Linked DNA regions of Homo sapiens: region 2 is linked to region 1. A link means that fine-mapping ties the variant in region 1 to the expression of a gene that starts in the linked region. Tissue or cell type: whole blood. Region 1 holds a variant in brackets; the other region holds the start of a gene. All regions are shown on one strand. Distances are between the middles of the regions.

The links. PIP is the estimated chance that this variant, and not a neighbour inherited with it, causes the effect.
Region 2: it holds the start of RALGAPA1, and the variant in region 1 is fine-mapped to the expression of RALGAPA1 in whole blood (INTERVAL, PIP 0.95).

What each region holds. Positions count from the first base shown.
Region 1 is chr14:35,762,005-35,770,189 of GRCh38, forward strand. RALGAPA1 (Ral GTPase activating protein catalytic subunit alpha 1) reads right to left here. Exons shown (of 42, transcript NM_001346249.2): 5 at 706-749. It overlaps SNORA101B (small nucleolar RNA, H/ACA box 101B), which reads right to left and starts at 927; the gene lies at 796-927. It also overlaps the pseudogene QRSL1P3. The variant C/T (reference allele first, on the strand shown) is at 4,001.
Region 2 is chr14:35,804,591-35,812,775 of GRCh38, forward strand. It overlaps RALGAPA1 (Ral GTPase activating protein catalytic subunit alpha 1), which reads right to left and starts at 4,705. Exons shown (of 42, transcript NM_001346249.2): 1 at 4,140-4,705. The coding sequence starts at 4,245. RefSeq lists enhancers at 4,355-4,915, 4,752-4,851 and a silencer at 4,432-4,671.

The sequences.
Region 1 (8,185 bases):
AATGAAAAAGAAACAAAAATGTTTATATATATATGTGTATCTCCCCTACTTCCCTCTACATCTAATAGTGGCTATGGTGGAATGAAGAATAATCTGTTGAATGACTAAACAATGTTTTCCTTCTGGGGACCATAAAGAGGAAAGATTGCTGGTGAATGAGTCCATTGAGTGGCAAAGTACAACAGTTTTTTCAATGTCCCCAGTCAACCTAGAATGGTTTGTCAAACAAACTCTTGCTACGTTTTTTTTTTGTTTTTGTTTTTGTTTTTAAGATACAGTCTCACTCTGTCGCCCAGGCTGGAGTGCATCGGCTTGATCTCAGCTCACTGCAACCTCTGCCTCCAGGGTTCAAGCAATTCTCCTGCTTCAGCTGCCCAAGTAGCTGTGAGTACAGGCACGTGCCACCACGCCCGGCTAATTTTTGTATTTTTAGTAGAGACAGGGTTTCACTATGTTGGCCAGGCTGGTCTCAAACTCCTGGCTTCAAGTGGTCCACCCACCTCAGCCTCCCAAAGTGCAGAGATTACAGGCGTGAGCCACTGCACCCAGCCTCTTGCTACATTTTAAGGGAACTCACTTCAATTAAATAAACTGAAGACAATTCAGAGATCTTTAGGAAAAAGCTTAGGTAGGAAAAGTGTTAACAGGTGGGATGTATGTTCTACTCAGTATTTTTAAAGTCATGGAAAGTAAACATAGTTGTACCTTTAAGGAGTTTCCTGTGTGAAGTAGCTTCTTTAAAATCAATCCTGAAAAGAAAATATGATTTTAAATATTCACATCTTATCTATTTGTAAATGTCAGAGTTCTCGGTCGGACTTGAAAACACTTTTAAATAAGTCCTTGGCAACCTCCAAATTATTCTTGGTGACCTTTATATCCTTCTGCCATACTTGGGATCAGAAGGGCATATAAAAAGAATCACCTTTTCAACACATGCTTTATTGCAATTAAACATGATTTATTTTATTAACAAAACCTAGGCCCGAAATTGCATTTAACACAACAATCTATTATAAATCTCTTATTTAGACTAAGAATAAAATAAAATACTTTTATCACTATCCAAATGAAATCCACTATAGAAAATTTTCATTTAGTTAACCACATGAACATCCTTAACTGTAATATTTCCTAATGAATATTTCCATTATACTAATTTTCTAAGTTTTGAAAAGTCATTAATATTTCCTTTTTTCTTTTAAATTATGAAATATTTCAAACCTATAATAAAATACTGAAAATAACATGAACAAACCTGCAGAGGACCACCACTCAGTATGAATAAATCTACACGTAGTTCCATGTTTATTTCACTTACCTGCATTATCTCCAATGTTTTACTTAACTGTACAGGTATCACTGAGGCCCAAATCATATTGTTCCTTTCTTCCCCAGAGGAAACCATTATCTAGGCTTTGGTATTAATCATTTCAAAAAATATTTTTATATTATTACTACACATTTATAAATCCATAAAAAATAATATAAACTGTTTCATATAACTCATTTATTTTTTTAAAAAGTTATTTATATGTTACTTTTCACATCCAACATTAGCTTAAGAAATTTATCTATACTTATCTATGTAGCTCTAGTTAATACATTTTAAGAGGTGCATACTATTCCACCGTATGAACATACCAAAATTTATTTATCGTCTTTATATTAAGACATTTGGTTTTTTTCAAATTTTTGCTATTCCAAGAGTACCGTAATAAATAGTTATTGTTCATGATTCCCTGTACACACCTGAGTTTCCCCGGGGTGTGTATATATATATATATATAGAGAGAGAGAGAGAGAGGAATAAAATTACTTTCAGCTTTACCAAATATTAGATAATTTTCTCCAAAGTAGTTGTAACAATTAACAGTACTACCAGCCGTATATGGGAGGGCTCTAGTACCATATTGTTGGCAGCACAAAACATTGACAGATGCTCTAATATTTGATAATCTGATGTATGTTAACTATCTTAATGTTGCTTTCATTTGATATTTCCTAGTGACACTGAACATCTTTTAATTTGGCTATTCAAGGTTTCCTTGTTTTATCCTTTGCACAATTTTCAATTTAGTTGTTCTTTTTTTTTTTTTTTAAAGAGATGGGGTCTTGTTCTGTTGTTCAGGCTGGAAAATAGTGGTGCAATCATAGATCACTGCAGCCTCAAACTCCTGGGTTCAAGTGATCCTCCCACTTCAGCCTCCTGAGTAGCTGGGACTACAGATGTGCACCACCAGGTCTGGCTAATTTTTGTAATTTTTGTAGAGGGCTTCATTATGTTGCCAAGGCTGGTCTGGAACTCCTGGCCTCAAGGATCCTCCCACCTTGGCCTCCCAAAGTGCTGGGATTACACGTGTGGGCCACTACACCTGGCCTTCTTTATATACATATATATATATGGAGTTCCTTCTGTATTACTAATTCTGTGTCTATTTCTATGAATTGAAAATACATTATCCCAAACAATTCAATCATGTTTTTGTTGGGTGGGGAGGTGGTATCTTCTGATGCAGATAAGTTTTATTTATTTATTTATTTATTTATTATCATTTTGAGACAGGTTCTCACTCTGTCACCCAGGCTAGAGTGCAGTGGCATGATCATGGCTCATTGTAGCCTTGACCTCCTGAGCTCAAGTAATCCTCTCGCCTCAGCCCCCAGATAGCTGGGACTAAAGGCACATGCCACCATGCCTGGATAATTTTTGTATTTTTTGTAGAGATGGGGTTTTGTCATGTTGCCCAGGCTGGTCTCAAACTCTTGAGCTCAAGTGATCTGCCCACCTTGGCCTCCCATCCCAAAGTGCTGAGATTACAGGCATAAGACACCATGCCTGGCCTTAAATTTTAATATAATCAATTTGCCAGTGTTTTTCTTTCTTATGTGTTCTTTGTATGTCTAAAGAAATCCTTCCTTACATTAAAATTATAAACCAAATACTCACTTCAAAAAGTTGTTATGTGTTGCTTTTCACATGTAGGTCCTGAAACCTATCAGAAAATTATTTCCTTGTGGGTGGAACAGAATTTGTTTTTTCACAAATGGAAAACCAAGTGTAGTACTATTTCGGGATTTATGATGTTCAAATGAACTAAAATGCCATCTCAATCATATTTCAAGTTTCCATACATAAGCTTAGGTCTTTGGCTGATCTCCATGTTCCTTTTCATTCATCCATTTGTCCATCCCTACATCAGTAACAGTGCCTTTGTTAGTATAACTTTATAATTTATCTTGTTATCAGGCATGAAAATAGCCAACACCACCACCCTCTTGGTCCGATTTGTTATTCTTCCAAATTGCTTTGGCTTTTATTTTACATATAAACTTTAAGATATATTTGTTAGGCTACATTTAAAAATCCCTATAGGAATGTTAAGAATTGTTATATGTGTGTGTACATACATATATATGATATATATTTGATATACATGGTATATATATTTAATATTGATAAATATTGTGTGATATTGATATTTATATATATACTTAACAAATTTATTTGTTTGAGACAGGTTCTTGCTCTGTCACCCAGGCTGGAGTGCAGTGGCACAATCATGGCCTACTGCAGCCTTGGCCTCTTGGTCTCAAGTTATCCTCTCACCTCCCCAGTAGCTGGGAACACAGGTGCACACTACCACACCCAGCTAATTTTTGTATTTTTTTGTAGAGTTGGGGTACTGCCATGTTACCCAGGCTGGTCTCAAACTCCTGGGCTCAGGTGATCCACCCACCTTGGCCTCTCAAAGGGCTGGGATTACAGGCGTGAGCCACTACAGCCAGCCAAAAATTACTGTCTTACATGTGCATCAAATATGCTGAAAGGTAATGCTATAGTAGTTCCGAAATTGTTGGATTAGGGAGCTCTACTAATGGAAAAACAAATTTAGATGAGTTTGCTATGAGATCTGGAAATGCAGAAGGCGTATTTGGACCAGTTAAAAACCCCTGGAGTTATTCAAAACAATATAGAGAAAAGAGGAAGCAGAATCTC[C/T]ACTTTGAGAATGAAGATTCAGACTGGCTGATAACTGGAGGAAGCTCAGGTGGGAGTGCAGTTGCCATATCGGCATTCACATGCTATGCGGCTTTAGGATCAGATACTGGAGGGCTGACCAGAAATCCTGCTGCCTACTGTGGGCTTGTTGGTTTCAAACCAAACTATGGCTTAGTTTCCCATCATGGTCTCATTTCCCTGGAGGATTTGATGGAAGTGCAAGGAATCTTAACCAGATGTGTGGATGATGCAGCAATTGTCTTGGGTGTACTGGCTGAACATGACCCTACGGATTCTACCACAGCACAGGATCCTGTTAAACCATTCATGATTCCCAGTTTGACAAATGTGAGCAAACTATGTATAGGTATTCCAGAGGAATATCTTGTACTGGAATTATCAAGTGAAGTACAGTCTCTTTGGTCCAAAGCTGCTGACCTCTTTGAGTCTGAGGGGGCCAAAGCAATTGAAGTATCCTTTTCTCACATTACTTATTCAATTGTCTGCTACCATCTATTGTGCACATCAGAAGCAGCATCGAGTATAGCAAGATCTGATGGGCTACAATATGGTCACAGATGTGACACTGATGTATCTACTGAAGCCATGTATGCTGCAACCAGACGAGAAGGGTTCAATGATTTTGTAAGAGGAAGAATTCTCTCAGGAAATGTTTTCTTGTTAAAATAAAAATATGAAAATTATTTCATCAAAGCACAGAAAGTGAGATGCCTCATTGCTAATGATTTTGTGAATGCTTTTAACTCTGGAGTATGCTAACTCCCACCACCTTGAGTAAGGCAGTACCATACCTGGAATTCATCAAAGAAGACCACAGAACAGGAAGTGCCCAGGATGATATTTTTACACAGGCTGTAAACATGGCAGGACTGTCAGCAGTGAGTAACCCTGTTGCACTCTCAAACCAAGCGTTGCCCACAGGGCTGCCGTTTACTGGACATGCATTTTGTGACTAGCAGCTTCTTACAGTAGCCAGATGGCTTGAAAAACAAGTAAAGTTTCCTGTTATTCAACTTCAAGAACTTATGGATGATTGTTCATCAATCCTTGAAAATGAAAAGTTAGTCTCTGTCTCTCTAACACAGTAGAGATAAATATATCATGCAAAATTTTTAAAAATTATTGCCTTTATACTATCAAGTTTATTTCCTATGAATATTGCATAAAATTCTGTTTATTCAAGTCCTTTCTTGTTCTTCAATGATCACATAATTGCCATACATTAATAATTTTTATTGAATATACAACATGCTAAAATTTATGGGATGGATATAAGGCAAAGCTTAGAGGGAAATTTATAGTTTTAAATACCTATATCAGAAAAGAAGAAAGCTATCAGATTAATATTCTATGGTTACATCTTAAAAAAACTAGAAACAGGGCCAGGCGCAGTGACTCACACCTGTAATCCTAGCACTTTGGGAGGCTGAGGTGGGTGGATCACGAGGTCAGGAGATCGAGACCATCCTGGCCAACATGGTGAAACCCTGTCTCTACTAAAAATACAAAAATTAGCCGGGCGTGGTGGCATGTGCCTGTATAGTCCCAGCTACTCAGGAGGCTGAGGCAGGAGAATTGCTTGAACCCAGGAGGCAGAGGTTGCAGTGAGCCAAGACAGCGTCACTGCACTCCAGTCTGGGCGACAGAGCAAGATTCCATCTCAAAAAAACAAACAAATAAACAAAAACCTAGAAACAGAAGAGTAAATTAAACCCAAAGGAAGCAGAATTTCTCTCTTTTTTAATTAAAATTTTTTTTTATTGTTGAGACAGGGTATCATTTTTTTACTCAGGCTAAAAGTGCAGTGGCATGATCTTGGCTTGCTGCAGTCTTGACCTCACCAAGTTCAGATGATCTTCCCAAATCAGCCTCCCAAGGAGCTGGGACGACATGAAGGAGTCATCACGTCTGGATAATTTTTGTATTTTTTTCCTAGATGGGGTTTCACCATGTTGCCCAGGCTGGTCTCGAACTCCCATGCTCAAGCGATCCACCTGCCTCAGGCTCTCAAAGTGCTGGGATTATAGGCATGAGCCACCACATCTGTCCTTATTTTCATGTTTTAGAGATTGTGTCTCATTCTGTCACCCCAATTGGAGTGTAGCAGTGTGATCACAGCTTACTGCACCCTTGAATTTCTGGACTTAAGTGATCCTCCTGCCTCAGCCTCCTGAGTAGCAGGGACTACAGGCACATACCAACAAGTGAGGCTAGCTTAAAAAAATTTCTTTTGTCTTTAAAGACAGAGTCTCACTATGTTGCTCAAGCTGGTCTCAAACTCCTGGCCTCAAGTGATCATCCTCTTTCAGCCTCTGCCAAGTGCTGAGATGACAGGCATGGGGCATCATGCCTGCCACAGAATGTTTTATAAAATATAAAAGAGGTTGAGTATGATGGCTCACACCTGTAATCCCAGCACTTTGGGAGGTTGGGGTAGGAGGATGGCTTGAAGCCGGAGGTTTGAGACCAGCCTGGGCAACAAAGCAAGACCCCGTCTCTACAAAAAATAATTTTAAAAAGTGAGCTGGGCCTGGTGGTGTACACCTGTGGTCCCAGCTACTTAAGAGGCTGAGTAGGGGGATGGCTTAAGCCCATTTCAAGGCTTCAGTGAACCATGATCAATCATGGCACTGCACTTCAGCCTGGTGACTGAATAAGATCCTGTCTCTTAAAAAAAATACAGTACTACAAAAAATAAATAGGTAGGGCACAGTGGCTCACGTCTTTAATCCCAGCACTTTGGGAGGCCGAGGTGGGCGGATCACCCGAGGTCGGGAGTTCATGACCAGCCTGACCAACATGCAGAAACCCCATCTCTACTAAAAATACAAAATAAGCCGGGTGTGGTGGTGCATGCCTGTAATCCCAGCTACTCGGGAGGCTGAGGCAGGAAGATCGCTTGAATCTGGGAGGCGGAGGTTGTGGTGAGCCGAGATAGTGCCACTGTACTCCAGCCTGGGCAACAAGGGCGAAACTCCGTCTCAAAAAAAAAAAAAAAAAAAAAAAAAAAATATATATATATATATATATATATATATATACACACACATAAAATATCAAAGACTAGAATGGAAAACAAGAAAATAGAAAGCAGAAAAAGTATAAAGAAAATCAATGATATCAAAAGTTTGTTCTTTGAAAAGATCAACAAATATGACAAATAGTTAGACTGGCCAATAAAATAGGAGAGAAGACATAAATTAACAAAATCAAGGATGAAAGCGGATATAGCCATTAAAAAGAATGAAATCATGTCCGGTGCAGCAACATTTAGCAACATGGATACAGCTGGAGGCCATTATTCTAAAGCAAATTAACATGGGAACAGAAAATCAAATATCATATACTCTCATTTGTAAGTGGGAGCTAAACACTGGGTACTCATGGACGTAAAAATGGCAATAATAGACATTGGGAAGTACTAGAGGGACAAGGGTTGAAAAACAGTTAGGTACTATGTTCACCACCTGGGTGACAGGATCAGTCATACCCTAAACCTCAGCATCATGAGATATACACATGTAACAAACCTGCATATGCATCCCCTGAATCTAAAAATAAAGTTGAAACCATTAAAGAATAAATAAAAAGTTTATGTAATATTAAAAAAAAAGAATGAAAGGGGACATCACTATTGACCCTATAGGAATCGAAAGGATTACTCTAAGGAATAACTTGAACAACTTTCTACTAACAAATTTGTTCCTAGAAAGAAACAAATTATCAAACTGACTCAGAGAGATATATAAAATCTGAATAAACCTATAACAAGAAATTGAAGTAATAATTACAAATATCACAAAGAAAAGTCCAAGTACAAATGGTCTCACTTTTGAATTTTATCAACTATTTAAAGAAGAAAATGTTACCTACCACTCATTCACAAACTGTTTCAGAAAACAAGAGGGACCACTTCTAAACTTCTATAGCTATCTTAATAGTAAAGCCAAATAAAGATTGACAAACTACAATACAATATTCCTCATAAACAGAGAGGCAAACTGAAGTAAGCAACAAATAAAAAGGACTATAAATAGTGAGTAAATAGGATTTACCTCAGGTATGGAAAGTTGGTTTAACATTTGAAAATCAATTAGTAAAATACATAATATTAATAGAATAAATGACAAAAGCACCAATGACACTGATAATGATCGCATCAAT
Region 2 (8,185 bases), 43 kb after region 1:
AAATAAATAAATAAATAAATAAATAGTGAGTAACTATTCAGAAATAAAAAGAGATTAACAGTTAGGTACAGTGGCTCACACCTGTAATCCCAGAATACTTTGGGAGGCTGAGATGGGAGGATTGCTTGAGTCCAGGAGCTTGCAACCAGCCTGGGCAACATGAGACCCCATCTCTACAAAAAAAAATTTTTTTTAATTGGCCATACACGGTGGTGCATGTCCCAGCTACTAGGGAGGTAGAGGAAGGAGGATCGCTGGACCCTGAAAGGTCAAGGCTGCAATGAGCCACGTTTGCAACACGGTACTCCAGCCAGAGTGACAGAAGACCCTGTCACAAGAAAAAAAAGCAATGAACTATTAACATACCAGGATACAGATTAATTTCAAAATAATGAGGCTGAGAAAAAGAAACCAAGGCCAGGTGTGGTGGCTCACGCCTGTAATCCCAGCACTTTGGGAGGCTGAGGCAGGCGGATCACGAGGTCGCGAGTTCAAGACCAGCCTGACCAACATGGTGAAACCCCATCTCTATTAGGAATACAAAAAAAAAAGGCGGGGCGCCGTGGCTCATGCCTGTAATCCCAGCACTTTAGGAGGCTGAGGCGGGGGGACTGCCTGAGCTCAGGAGTTCGAAACCAGCCTGGGCAACACAGTGAAACCCTGTCTCTACTAAAATACAAAAGAAAAAAAAAAAAGAAAAAATTAGCCAGGCTTGGTGGCGTGCGCCTGTAATCCCAGCTACTCAAGAGGCTGAGGCAGGGGGATTGCTTGAACCCGGGAGGCGGAGGTTGCAGTGAGCCGAGATCGCGCCACTGCATTCCAGCCTGGGTGACAGAGTGAGACTCCGTGTCAAAAAAAAAAAAAAAAGAAATCAAACATAAAATGACCGTACTGCATAATTCCATTTTTATGCTGTATAATCCCATTTATATAAAACTCTAGATAATGCAAACTAATCTAGGGTGACAGCAGATTAGTGGTTGCTCAGGAAAGGTGGGAGGGTACAACTGAGGTGGGAGAAAGAGATTACAAAGGGGCATGAGAAAACTTTGGGAGGTTATACATACATACATATATATATTTTTTCTTTTTCTTTTTTTTTTTTTTTTCCTGAAACGGAGTCTCGCTCTGTTGCCCAGGCTGGAGTGCAGTAGCGTGATCTCGACTCACCACAACCTCTGCCTCCCAGGTTCACGCGATTCTCCTGCCTCAGCCTCCTGAGTAGCTGGGACTACAGGTGCACGCCACCATGCCTGGCTAATTTTTGTATTTTCAGTAGAGTAGAGACCCGGTTTCACTCTGTTGGCCAGGCTGGTCTTGAATTCCTGACCTCGTGATCCGCCCACCTCGGCCTCCCCAAGTCCTGGGATTACAGGCATGAGCTACCGCACCCAGCTGATTATACATATATTATCCTGATTGTCACTGTCTATATTTGTTATCTTGATTGGATATTTTAAATATTTGTTATGATGGTTTCAGGAGATATACATATGTAAAAATTATTCAATTATGTACTTTAAATATGTGCAGTTTATTGTGTGCCAATTATACCTCAATAAAGCTGTCAGAATTATTTAACAATAAATATTTTTAGCTAAATAAGCACTTTTTATTTTTATATCAAGAGGACTGAACTGTTAGCTGTAAAGTAGAACAAAACTAACACTAAGTCAATACCCACTATATGCCAAGCATTATGTTAGCCAATTTACATGTGCTAATTTATAATATCATTACCATTAGTTGTAAAATGGGGGGGAGGGGGTAGGTAGAAAGGATAACAGCTTTAGAAATCAGACAAGGCTTTTTTTTCTGTTTTAAGAAAACCCTGACTTCTAGTTTTTACAAATCAATTATGCAACAGTATCAATAAACATACCAGATTTAAATCTAAATCTTCAGAGTCAAGTTCTATAAATTTAACTTGGATTGTCCTACAGTGGGAACACATGCCAGGAAAAAAGTTTACAGCGGATGTTTAAATTATGATTATGTTCTCATACATATAGATGCACTGAATCCTCCCATAAGTACCCTGAGTGAATGGCAGTTCTGTTTGGTCCCATATGAACTATGAACTATGGGACCAAACAAAAATCAAAAGCCTGTGTAACTGGCAATGCCCAATTACTCTGCAAACTAGTTTCCTCATTGTGTTTACCTTATTTAAAGCCCGCACCTACTTCCAGAAAGGATTTTCCATCTGCAAAATCAAATACCTGATTGGCAGACCTCTAAAAGACACTAGTTTTTGTCATTCTACTTTCTCTCATTCATTTTCTTAGAAATTACATTAACTGTATTTCAAACAAAATAACGACAACAATAAAAGACTTGTTTTTGTTTTGTTTTGTTTTCAAACCAAGCAAGCTAAGTCCTACAAAATGCCTTATATGTGTGACCTCTCTCTTAATTTACCTTTTAATTTTCCATGTCTGCCAGATGGAAAAAAACTCTATGCCAAAAAAGTATATATAAATAATTCCTTAACCAGTCTATAAATAAAGTATGGCCTTTAATTTAGGAAATCTCGATACTTTATTGGAACTCAACTTTATAGCTGTGTCATTACCTAACCTACAGCTTATCCCAAGTAGGTGTCAAGCTCCATTAAGTGTTCAATTTCAAACTGCCATTACCTGTGAATCCCTCGCCTGCATTCACACATTAACTTACTGTGTCCTATTCTCGGCTAAATCTTTATTTCAATGGCTTAACTCTCAAGAAGAATGAAAACAAAAAGATCACAATCTCCACTATATTTAGAAGCTTTACATTTTCTTGAAAACTGAGCTTTTTATAGCGCTAAACTGGATTAACTGCTTTCTTACTACTCCACTGGAATAAATACAATTTACTTGTGACAAAGATTAGCTGTCATAAATGTAGAAAGAGTAAAAAAACAAACTAGAGACACAAAATCTGGGTTCCAATTCTGACTCAGCCTCCTGGTAGCTGGCTGACTACTCGATGTTCCCAAACTTCAGCTTTTTTGTTGGTAAAAAATGGAGAATAATATCATCTACCTATAGAGTTATTGCAAGGATTATCATAATTTACGTGAAATCACTGTAAACAGTAAAGCATCATAGAAATGTTGGGTAATATTGGTGGTATCCTGGTGGTATGAGTAAACAATAGACTAGAGAAACATGTACCTCAAATAAGGGACTTACTTTTTTCACTAAATAAACATCACTTTCCAAAACAAATACGCATCAGGAGGACAGCTCGAGATAAACTCTGAACTAGGATTCAGGCATCTGGATGAATGCATCTTCTTCAGCCAGTTCCACCATTAACTCTAAGTATCAACACAGGCGAAATAATTTTCCTTTTCATCTCAAATGTCTTCATCTAAAAAATCCAACTACTGGACCAGATGTTCCATAAGTATTATTACAGCCTTTATCAGCCTACCAAATGACTAAGTATTCAAAAGAGTCGATTAACATTATATTCAAAACTTAGAGCACTGTTTGGTCTACCAGCAAAACAGAACTTAAGGGCAGACGATAAAAAAAATATTTTTAATTAAAAATAGAATTATATACAATTCTCGAGAAGCAAAGGATGAGTTAAACTACCTATAATAGTTCTCCCTCTAAATGACTAGTGATGAACAAGGTGCATTAACAAAAGGGCGGGGCTCCTTCCCACAGCTTTTTGGGAACCGCCCACTTCCCAAAGAGGTGTAACTGCTACCTCCTTGTCTTCATCTGCCAAGAAACTTGAAAGATTAAGGTTTATATTGTCTGAGAGAGGATTTTATTTTTCTTTTTACTTGGGTGGGGTTGGCAGTAGTCATCTGGCAAACATATCCTATAAACACCATTATCCACAACGCCAGGTCTCCCCACAAAGTCTTAAAGATCTAAGTTTTTAGAGTAATACCAATTTTAAAAAATAAGTTCAGACTATTAACTCAAAATTAGATTACTGTGTTAACAGTAATCAGTGCTGCCAACTGCCAAGTTTTCGCTTCTCCGAATTATTCACCCTCCCGCGTCTCCGCAGAGGCTACGATTTGCCCTCTCCTGCACCGCGCCAGGTCCCGAGAGAGAGTCCGCAGGGGCTCCCAGGAGAGGGAAGGCCGGGCAACCCAGGCCTCGGCGCTGCCACCCCTCGCTCCTCACCGATGACGATGCGCAGGTGCTTGAGGCGAGTCAGTGCGTCCTTCTTGGTGTCTAGCACCTTCTGGGTGGACTTCTTCACGTCCCCGTGCGGCTTCTTGGAGAACATCCTGTCGCTGCCACTGCCACTGCCACTGCCACAGCCGGCTCCCAGCCGGGTCCCGGCGGCAGAAAGTGGAGGGAGTGGACGGGGAGGAGACTAGCCAGAGAGGCTCATTAGCTCCCCAGCCTTGCGGGCCAGGGCAGAGCCGACTCCTTCCCGATCCAGGCCAGGGCCGCCACCTCCACCCGCCTCGCGCCGCGGCTCCAAGGCACCTTCGGCCCCAGCTCCAATATGGCGGATCCCTCTCCCGGCCCTGCACGGAGCGAGGCAGACCCGGGCTGGCCGCCTGCCGCCGCCGCTCGTCTCCAGCGGCCGCCGCTCGCCGCCACAGGCCGGGGCCCCGGACCCAGAGCCACGAAGGTGGAGCTCTCGGCGGCAGGAGCACAACTCTCTCCCTGAGGCCCCCTTAAGGTTGAAGCTTCTTTAGCAGCTTACACCCTGCAGAGGCCGAAACGGAGACGAGTGTGGTAGTGATGGGGTTTCACGACTCTGCCGTCGGTGGCGAACGGTGTCCGTGGCAACCGCCTTCTGACGTCAAGAGTTCTTGACGTCATGCCAGCATGAGATCACCCGTGGCACTCCCCGCCTTGGTTTCCTGTGTAAGCAGCCAAAGGAGAATCTCAAGAAAGGCAAGGAAGGTAGTTACTGCGTGCTCCATTGTAAGCCAAATGATAGTAATAAGCAAAGAGAAGTAATCTTTATTAAATATGTCCATGATTTATCTTTGAAAATGTGCATAAGTTGTTGTGGCCACCAGATCCTCTAGCAGAAAGATAAACGAAGTTACAGTTGGGCAATTTATTCTGTCCTAAATCTATTACTAATAATATTTCCTGCACTATGTATGTGATTTCTTTCATATTTTTTCTATTTGCAATATCCCTGTTTTTTGCTGCAAACAACTTGACAACAGAAAGGCTTAAGCAGAGGTATCTAGGTTTTTTAAATAAAAGTAATCTTGCTTTCCTTTTCTATTGTGCTTTTAAAAATCTTTTCCCCATCTGCACCCCACATAAAGATGAATATATTGTCAGTTTTTCCTCTGCAAAGAAGAATTCAAGGTTCTTATTACATTGATGGAGTCATCTGAAGAATCTGCAATAGCTGAAAAAAATCCGTGAAATTCTGAATGACATAAATTGAAATTTTTATTGGAACCCTTTTTTTTTTTTTCCTTTTTCCTTTTCTTTCCAGACAGGGTCTCTGTGTCCCAGGCAGAAGTGCAGTGGTGTGATCTCAGCTCACTGAAGCCTCGAACTCCCAGGCTCAGGTGATGCTCCCACCTCAGCCTACCGAGTAGCTGGGACCACAGGTGCGCGCCACCACATCCAGCTAATTTTTGTGTTTTTTGTAGAGACGGGGTTTCGCCATTTTGCCCAAACTGGTCTAAAACTCCTAGACTCAAGTGATCCGCCCGCCTCAGCCTACCAAACTGCTGGGATTACAGGCGTGAGGCCACTGCGCCTGGCCAGGAACATTTCCTCCACAAAATAATTTGATAAAGAGTGAGTTTGCTTGTTTGAACTGTTTCCTTCTATGTTCTCACCCATAGCAATAGACTTGTCCAATGAAATATGTGATTAACATAGAAAAATAACAAAATCAGCAAAGAAGAGAGATGTAAGACATTTGCCAAAATTATGTTAAAATATAGTGCTTTGCTTAATGGTAGTTTGTTTCAACAACAATCCTATATTTTTTAAAGTACAAAAAATTTATTCAGTTTCTACATGTAGGGTTTGTTTGTATCATCAAACTTACAAGCCATACATGTTTTGAGGAAGCTTATAACATAATAGAAAAATAAGGGGATTGTTCAAGAGATTTTAGTTCTAGTTCCTCTCAGCATCAGTTTTCTTATTAATAAAATCAAAATAAGGTCTGTCCCTCACAGTTTCGTGAAATTTAGGCAATAATACAATGTTTTCAAGCATGATCTTTAGAATTACATAGACCTAAATTAGACATTCTGTTTTTCACTTGCAAGGACTTACTTGCTCTCGGGCCCTTGGCATGTAGTTCAGTCTCAGCCTGATTTTCCTCATTTGTAAACTACATCAGTGATTGTGATAATTAGGTGAGAAAAGTATTGAAAGTTACATCTATAATGACACATCTCATAACATTCCTTTCCTTCATAGAATTTAAATACAGTAATTTGTGTAACTGTTTACAGATTCTCTCTTTCATGAGACTGTAAACTCCCTGAGGACAGAGACTGTATAGATTGTCTAAAGTTGTATCCCAGTCTTCTTGCAAAGTGCTCTTTGCAAGATAGGCTCAATAAATCTGTGTCGAATAGAAGAACGAATGTCACTGTCCCTTCCTTTCTCTTGCGCAAGTACTCAGTAAATGTTTGGCAAATGAGTGACATAATTTTAGAGAATAAAAATGTAACATATCGTTAAAAATAATTATATGGCTGGTATACCTGAGAAAAAATGAAAACACCATTGCAAAACAAACTAGTATAATGTAATTTACATATGGCACACCCATCCCACTGCCTGGTTTTTCTCTTCCCATTGATTTAAATATTAAAATTCTTTGAAAGATAAGTCTTCCCCACAGCAGACATAATTATCATGGAAATAAAACCCAGAAATATACCTTTGAAATATTGCTTGTGAGGGCCAGGCACGGTGGCTCATGCCTGTAATCCCAGCACTTTGGGAGGCCGAGGCAGGCGGATCACAAGGTTAGGAGAGTTCAAGACCAGCCTGACCAACATGGTGAAACCCCGTCTCTACTAAAAATACAAAAAAATTAGCCAGGCGTGGTGGGGCACGCCTGTAATCCCAGCCACTCAGGAGACTGAGGCAGGAGAATTGCTTAAACCCAGGAGGCGGAGGTTGCAGTAAGCCAAGATTGCACCACTGAACTCCAGCCTGGTTGACAGAGTGAGACTCTGTCTCAAAAAAAAAAAAAAAAAAAAAAAAAAAAAAAAATATATATATATATATATATATATATATATTGCTTGTGAGAACTAGATTTTTTTTCTTTTAGTGACTGGGTCTTGCTCTGTCATCCAGGCTGGAATGCAGTGGTGCAGTCACAGCTCACTTTAGCCTTAACTTCCTGGACTCAAGCAATCCTCTCACCTCAGCCTCCCATGCAGTTGGTAACACAGGCAGGTGCCAAAAAGCCCAGCTAATTAAAAAAAAATTTAGTAGATGGCCAGGCGTGGTGGCTCACTCCTGTAATCCCAGCACTTTGGGAGGCCGAGGCAGGTGGATTACCTGAGGCCAGGATTTCAAGACCAGCCTGACCAATATGGAGAAACCCCTTCTCTATTAAAAATACAAAATTAGCCAGGAGTGGTGGCGCGTGCCCATAACCCCAGCTACTCGGGAGTCTGAGGCAGGAGAATCACTTGAACCTGGGAGGCGGAGGTTGCGGTGAACTGAGATCGTGCCATTGCACTCCAGCCTGGGCAACAAGAGCGAAACTCCATCTCACAAAAAAAAAAAAAAAAAAAAAAAAAAAAAATTTAGTAGAGACAAGGTCTCACTATTTTGCCCAGGCTGGTCTTTAACTCCTGGCCTCAAGGGATCCCCCTACCTCAGCCTCCCAAAGTGTTGGGGTTACAGATTACAGGCATGAACCACCACACCTGGCCTACACACAAATGTTTATAGCAATTTTATTCCTAACTCCAAAAACTAGAAGCAACCAAGATATCTTTCAGTAGTTAAATGAATAAACATACTGTGGTACATCCATACAATGGAATATTATTCAGCAATAAAAAGAAATGAGTTCTTGAGCCACAAAAAGACATGTATGACACTTAAATGCATATTGCTAAGTGAAAGAAGCCAGTCTGAAAATGCTACATACTGTATGATTCTAGTTATATGACATTCTGGAAAAGGCAATATTATAGCAATAGTAAAAAGATCAGTGGTTGCAAGAGGATTGAGGGGAGGGAGAAGAAGATTGA